2 linked regions of the Homo sapiens genome follow. The protein of the gene in region 1 interacts with the protein of each later gene in a pairwise test. Each region holds a gene or a part of one and is shown on either strand. Other genes may lie near its edges.

Region 1 (3,689 bases):
ATGCCCTCTGCTCTTGTTCTCGAAACACACAAACTCAGAGACACAGACTCAGGCCCCACTGCCCCTCTGGCCACTGAGCACACCACATTCTTCATGATCCATTTCCCAGGAGCCCGTAGCACATTTGCCTACCACCCACTCTTAGCTGGGGGGTGGTATATCTCTAGAGACACAGCAGAAAAATACTGGCATTTTTATGCAAATAAATTCTCAACAAACTTGTCATAAAATATATTTTTTGAATATTCAGCATTTGAGGTATGGTTTAGTGGGTTTATACAATTTAAATGGCTTATATAATTATTTGAAATGAAAAGAAAACCTAGTCAGCCAGAACCAATTTGGCAATTTTTCCATGGTATGAAGGCAAATCAATTAAGGCCAAAACGTTGAATGTGGGAGAGATAGTAAGTGACTTGTATGAGGGATTACTGCATAATAACGTAACGCACACCTTACTGGATTCTCCATATATATTTACATTACCAGAGAACAGTGGCCCTAGGGATGTTTAAGCACTGCTTATAATGGAAAAAGTCAGCTTGAGAAGTAAACGTATATCAGACTACAGGTAATTCCTCATCTTGAAGCCATGCAACACCTGCAAATCTGGATTTATACAAAAGTTGCTAATGTGTTTCATAAAGATTTAGCATGAGTAACAGACTCTTGGTGCATTTAAAATATGTGAGTTCCAGAAAGTAGATTTGCATACACCTTTTCAACAGCACATTTCACTGGAATGGATGAGGGGCTTCTGAAGACCACTCCACTACCTGAATTTATTTGGATCACTGAGGAAGAGCATTTGTTGGGATTACAGAATTATAGGCCATTAGACATCATGGGTAGGTAGTCTTAAGATCCTTCAACTTTCAAAAACCACAGTCTAAGGACTATATTCAAATGACAAGAGCCGCACTGTATACTGCTTTCTGCAGTGACCATGCTGGGTCACGCATCCTATGTTTCTCATTTTTAAATGATTTGGAACATTTTAGCCAGCATTTTGATCACACAGATTAATAATGCTGTTCTCCCCAAAACGGGAAACTTTACCTGAAACGCTCTCCTGAACAAACACCAGTGCACTGCCAGCCTCACATGATTGCATGGGAGCTTTAATTAACGCTGGAGCCCAGCAACCTTGGCTTTTCCTGCCTGTTATCTGCTACTGTCACACCGTGAATGGTATTTGAATCTCACCTCCCTCTCACCTCAGTAAGAGTATGTTTGTTTACAGCCCCAACCTCAGCAATGCCAAAGGCTGGCATCGGGGGCAGTGCCAAGCTGTCCCTGGATACTATTTACCTTTGAGGAAGAACAGCATGGGTTTGCCAAGCTCAATTCCCAGGCTGGTGCTCCTTGAATTAATCATGGCACAGTGTTCATCTCTCTGGAAATGCCCACGCCAGCCCAGACACAGCCTCAGAGTCCTTTCCAACACGACCCTCCAGGCAGCAGTTACCAACCATCAGTCTTCAGCTGAAGCTTCAAGTCTTTGCCATCCTTGTAATGACAGCCTTAGGCCTTGCCCCAAGCATTCTGGACTCTCTAACACTCAGAATTGTAATGTAATATTCTGCTCTAATTTAAATTTTTAAAAATATAGTCTCCTAATTCAGGATAAGGAGTAAGCAAACTTTCTGAAAAGGGCTAGATAATAAGTATTTTAGGCTTTGCCAGTCATATGGTCTCTTGCAGCTACTCAACTCTGCCACTGTAGTATGAAAGCAGCCATGAGTAATATGTTAATGAATGGGAATGGCTGAGTTCCAATAAAGCTTTATTTTTTTTTTATTTGAGACGGGGTCTTGCTCTGTTGCCCAGGCTGGAGTGCAATGGCGCAATCTCAGCTCACTGCAAGCTCTGCCTCCTGGGTTCAAGCCATTCTCCTGCCTCAGCCTCCCAAGTAGCTGCGACTACAGGTGCGCACCACAATGCCTGGCTAATTTTTTGTATTTTTAGTAGAGACAGAGTTTCACCATGTTGGCCAGGTTGGTCTCAAACTCCTGACTTCGTGATCCACCCACCTTGGCCTCCCAAAGCACTGGGATTACAGGCATGAGCCACCATTCCCAGCCAATAAAACTTTATTTACAAGAACAGCTGGTGGGCCAGATTTGGCCCAAGGGTCATAGTTTATTATCCCTTGAGCTAGGCTGCTGCCTGAGGTTGATTCAACATCCCAGCTCCAGTCAACAACAAAAATTCTAAGTCTCCCGCCTAATGCTGCTGTGGTGTGTCATGCCAAAAAAGTGGGCTACTCAGGTTAGACCAATGACTTCAGAACCACAGGGCTCAGAACAGGAAGGAGCTTCTTTCTGCAGAGCTGATTCCTGGAAAGCCACCAGCACTCCACCTTCTGCCCAGAAATGTGATTCAGTCAATAGCTGATGAGGAAAAGCAACCTGCAAACATTAGGAAGAAGGAGAAAAATAATTCAGAGGTGATGATACCACCTCCAATGAACAGGGAAGCAAGTTCATCAGTAACAAAAGTCAGTGAGGCAAAAAAAAAAAAAAAAAAAAAAAAAAAAGGCTAATGGCCGAGGGCTGGCTCCTTCTTTCTCCCTAATCAGTGTCCTTATTTCAGTGTGCTCACATGCTCGCCTAGGACTGCTTTAGAGTACAACTCTGGACCCGCCCTCATCACAGTCCAATCTACCAAACTGAGTGACCCTAAAGGACATCATAGACAACATTTGAAAGCAAGAAATGCAAAATGTTCCCATAGCATCAGGTGAGCAGGGAGAGGATGCCCACTGTAGACCACATGGAAATGGCAGTCCCTCCACGGAGAGGGAATCACAGGAACACATTTACCAAAGCCTTCCCTTCCATTCCTGGCCATTCCAGTAGCATCTTCCTCATCCAGAAGGGCTTCCAATACTCTCTGGAGGATCCTGACTCGTTTGGAGTATTATCCTTGTAAAAGATGCTGGCACATTGTAGGTGCTCAATAAATGTGTTCAATTGAAAAATATTGAGGTTGTCTCATAAATTATATCTATGTATTAGGCTCTGTAGTGTAAGAAGTCTAGATTGTAGCCCTGGTTTTTTGTCGCTTAATGGAACCGTGTCTCTTGTTTCCTTGGCCTTACGCTTCCTCCAGCATTGCCAGGGAGGGGATGTGTTGGTAAGTGCTCTGGTTGAGTTACATCCCATCCCTCATTTGCCTCTTTTCCAAGTAAGATCCCCTCAACCCCAAATTACTGCTCACGGTCCCACTTTGGCCTACACTAAACACCACCTAGTGTCTGCTTTAAAGAGCAAATCTTTCTCTGTCTGTCCCCAACTCACCTGGCAAGTCCTACAGAAATCATCTTGGGTCACCTCAACTGGTTAAAAGGAGCATAAGAGGAACTGGTGGAAGCAGTGGGTGAGCCACTGCAGAGACTTTTGTGACATGGGAGGGTTGATGTGTGCTTGAATAAATTGGGTTTTAGTAGTGGCTGCTCCTTGAGCCTCCGGGTCTGAGGGCAGGGGAACAGTCACAGCAGAGTGAACTGGACTGTACCACCCAGTGCGTTCCCAGGTGAGACTACATGTTTACTTTACTTAGAATGAGCTCCCGGCCACAAATAAATCAGGAGAAACGGAGGTATCTTCCTACCTCCCTATTTTCCTTTTTTTTTTTTTTTTTTTTTTTTGAGACAGGAAGGATATCACTGTCACCCAGGCTTAGTG
Region 2 (3,600 bases), on another chromosome or scaffold:
ACCGCGCCCGGCCTCCCCCACCCCCGTTTTTTTTTGACATACTGCCACCCAGAAACACTAGTATGTTCAATAAATACTTGATGTGTTAAAAACATGTAACCCTTTTTCTTGAAGTAGATGTTACTTTGAGTTGAACTCAAAGCTAAAATACAAAACACCATTTAAAACATTTAATAACTTTTATTAGCAACATAAAAGAAGGCACAACACGTATCCACTTGCCCGAAAAAAAAAATAGTGTTGCAAAGGAAAACAAAAGTAATGAAACAGCACTGGACAATTGTCAAAGAAGAGCCCCAGTTAACGGCTTCTACCACTGGATTTTATATTTTTGGAACATAATCTTTATAGCCACGGAAGGAGGTTTAGCTGTTTTTCCACAGCTCATAAATGATGAAGTTATTTATCTTCATTAATGTGTGTTGGGCTTTATTTTCCTACATGCTCAATATAGTTGGTAGATCTGTTTTGATATTACTGAGCACTGCTTTGTGCCAGACACAATTCTGGGGATACAGCAATGAGCAAAACAGTTTACTAAGTCCCTGCTTTTAAAAATTTTACATTTCTGGTGGTGAGGATACTGACAAATAAGGTCTGGAAGTTGTAACTGTTATGAAGAAATAAAAGCAGGTGAAGAGTTAAAGCAATGGTGCAGGTGTACTTTTTTTGGATACAGTGGTCTGGGCAGCCCTCTGAGAAGGGACCTGAAATATGCATCGAACATCGAGGAGTTAAAAAAAATCTGGAGGAAATGTTCTGCCAGAGAAATCGGCAAGCACAAAGGCCCGAAGTGGTTCGAGCCTGCGTGCTGTGGTACAAGCCAGAGGTGAACGAGGCGAGGCAGAAGCACGATCATAAATACATGTATGGATGTTCTCCTGGCTTGAGACCACAGTGCTAAGGGAGGTGGGGTTTACAAATCTCTCAGGAGGCCACAAAGGGCAGGATGAAGCCGATTTCCAATGGCGGAGCTACGAGGACGCCTTTCCTCTGCTAGGGCCAGGTTGGACGGTTGCAAGGGATGGACTGCAACCCGCCCTCGGAAGACCAAACTTCGCCCAGGGGCAGGGACTGGCCGGGGAGGGCCTCGGCGGCGCCCGACCCGCGGGCGCTGCACGGGCCGCGGTTACCAGCAGGCGGTGTAGTGAGCGCGCCTGCAGCAGCAGCAACAGCAGCAGCAGCGGTCGCCGCCGCCGCCGCCGCCCGCCAGTCCCAACGAGGAGAAAGGAGGGGACCGGAAGGAGCCGCTGGTGCTGCGGGAAGTGGCAGGAGCGGGAGGCGGGGACCCACCTGGAAGCGCCGCGGCGCCGCTATCGAGCTTCCTGCAGCGGTGGCCACCCGAGCAAGTGCCGTGGCGGGGGCGGAGAGCGGCCACGGCGGCGGCGCCTCCCCAAGTGGCCCGTTGCGTCCGACCCCGCGTGAAAGGTGAGCAAGAGCTCGGGACACGTGGTGAGGGCCAGACACGGGGGAGGGAGAATGAAGGGGGAGGGAATGGGGGTGGGAAACGATCGGCTTGGGACCCGGATTTGGAGCCAAGTACCGGGAGGGGGTGGGCTGGAGGCGACGACTGCGACGGCTGCGACGGCTGCGACGGCGAAGCCCCCACGTGGGGCGGGGGTGCGCGCGCACGTGTGCGCGGGCGAAAGGGGGGGCGGGGAGGGCTTTTGGGAGGGCGTCGGGAGCGCGCTCGCTCAGTAGCGGCCCACGTGACGGGCACGCCGAAAATGTTTCCACGTGACAGGGAGGCTGCCTGGGGCAGCGCACTGCGCTCTGTTTATGTAGTATAATCGTGGTAATCGGAGGTTTTTAAGATTTCTGCTTTTCTGTACAAGGGGAAAGGAGGAGACGTATAAAGCGGAAAGACTTCCTACTGTCTCAGTGTTTTAAATGTTCACTACTCCGTTAGTGAAGTGCTTTTTAAGTTCCGAAATACTGATTTTTTTCTGTACCGCCATGTTGGGTCTAGTGGAAGCTCGCGAGATGCGAGTGGGTTTGTATCGCGAGATCTCTCGATTCTCGCGGGACCTCGTTGGCAGAGCAGTTGTCCTGGATGGCGGAGCCTTGGGTTCCGGGGGCCTGGGACCTGCAACTCTTTCTACAAGGCAAGTCGTTAGGGAGGGGCCCGGGGCGAGTGCCTCTTGGTGCCGGGATACGTGCTGCATCAGCTTCCCATAGTCTTGAAGGGAATACAGTAACCCCATTGAGGCAACACTGCCCTCCCCATCCCCCTGCGGGCGCTCCACCACCTGCAAAAGCATATGCACCCCTCAGCCAGGTCCTTCTCCCCACGCAGTGATAGTTCCACCCTGTCCCACTCACTGGAAGTCCGGGAGCCGTGCTCGCGCAGACCTGATGATTCCATTGGATACCGTTCCTCTTACTTTAAGATGTTCTTGTCAGTTTTTCCCTTCTTGCCATTTTCTAAAGTATTCCAGACCGGTTAACTATTGTGTCGCGTTTTCTGCTGCAGTACCTGACTCCAGTCTCCTGAAACAGAACTCCTCCCATCTATTTTCTCTGGGTGTCATTTACTCATCACCCTGACTTCGTATTTTCAGTAACTTTTGGCAGTATTTGGAGGGCCCATTATGTCTCTGACAACACCTGTGGTCAGAATAAAATCCTGCTTTTCATCATTTTGTACGTGCCTATTAACTCAGTTATCGGTAGGGTTTTAATTACTACTGTGTTACTGAGGTTGCCATCTTTGAAGTTTAGGGATGGTTGTTTTAGGTTATATATTTAAGGTAACAGACTGTTTCATGTGATTTTTTTTTTTTTTTTTTTGAGACGGAGTCTCGCTCTTGTCGCCTAGGCTGGAGTGTAGTGGGGCGATCTCGGCTCATTGCAACCTCCGCCTCCCGGGTTCAAGCGATTCTCCTGCCTCAGCCTCTCGAGTATCGAGTAGCTGGGATTACAGTCGCGCTTCACCACGCCCGGCTAATTTTTGTGTTTTTAGTAGAGACGGGGTTTCACCATGTTGGCCAGGCTGGTCTCAAACTCCTGACCTCAAGTGATCCACCTGCCTTGGCCTCTCAAAGTGCTGGGATTTCAGCACTGTACAGGCGTGAGCCACCGCGCCCGGCCTCAGGTCAACTTTTTAGTAAAGAGCAAACTCATAAATTTTGGCATCAGAGTTTGAGCTTTATTTTTCTTAAATGAGTTTGAAATCAATTTAATATTTCTCTCCAATTCCCTAATGTCTCAGAAGTGAATTTACAGTATACCTTTGTTTTTTCGTATTCTTAAGTAGTATTTGGATTTTATTTAGTAGTTGCAGTACTAAATAAGGAGTGGGGAGTTAATTACAAAACGAATCAGGTGACTAGTTAATTTATTCATAGTTTGTTTTTTAAAACTACAAAAGTGTTTTTTTTTCCTATACATAATACAGAGAGGTATATAGTATAGAGTAACACAGTGCTTGTTTCACGGTACCACAAAGTTCCATTCCTCAGTCTTAAATCTCTGTAACCAGCCTTTGTGGTTGCTGTGTATCATTCCAGATATTTCCATATTTTGGTTTAGTTTTTGTTTCTTAAATGAAGGGGAGAAAGTGTTGTTTTAATGGGGTACCAACACAATATTGGCAATCAG

What was found. The genes of interacting proteins can lie anywhere in the genome.
Region 2: the proteins of FAM124A (region 1) and ZZZ3 interact in binary tests that used the Homo sapiens proteins (3 or more experiments, as listed by UniProt).

What each region holds. Positions count from the first base shown.
Region 1 is NC_000013.11:51,281,257-51,284,945, forward strand, and holds the end of FAM124A (protein FAM124A), read left to right. Parts: 3' UTR 1-2,983; downstream 2,984-3,689.
Region 2 is NC_000001.11:77,681,090-77,684,689, reverse strand, and holds the start of ZZZ3 (ZZ-type zinc finger-containing protein 3), read left to right. Parts: upstream 1-2,031; 5' UTR 2,032-2,105; intron 2,106-3,600.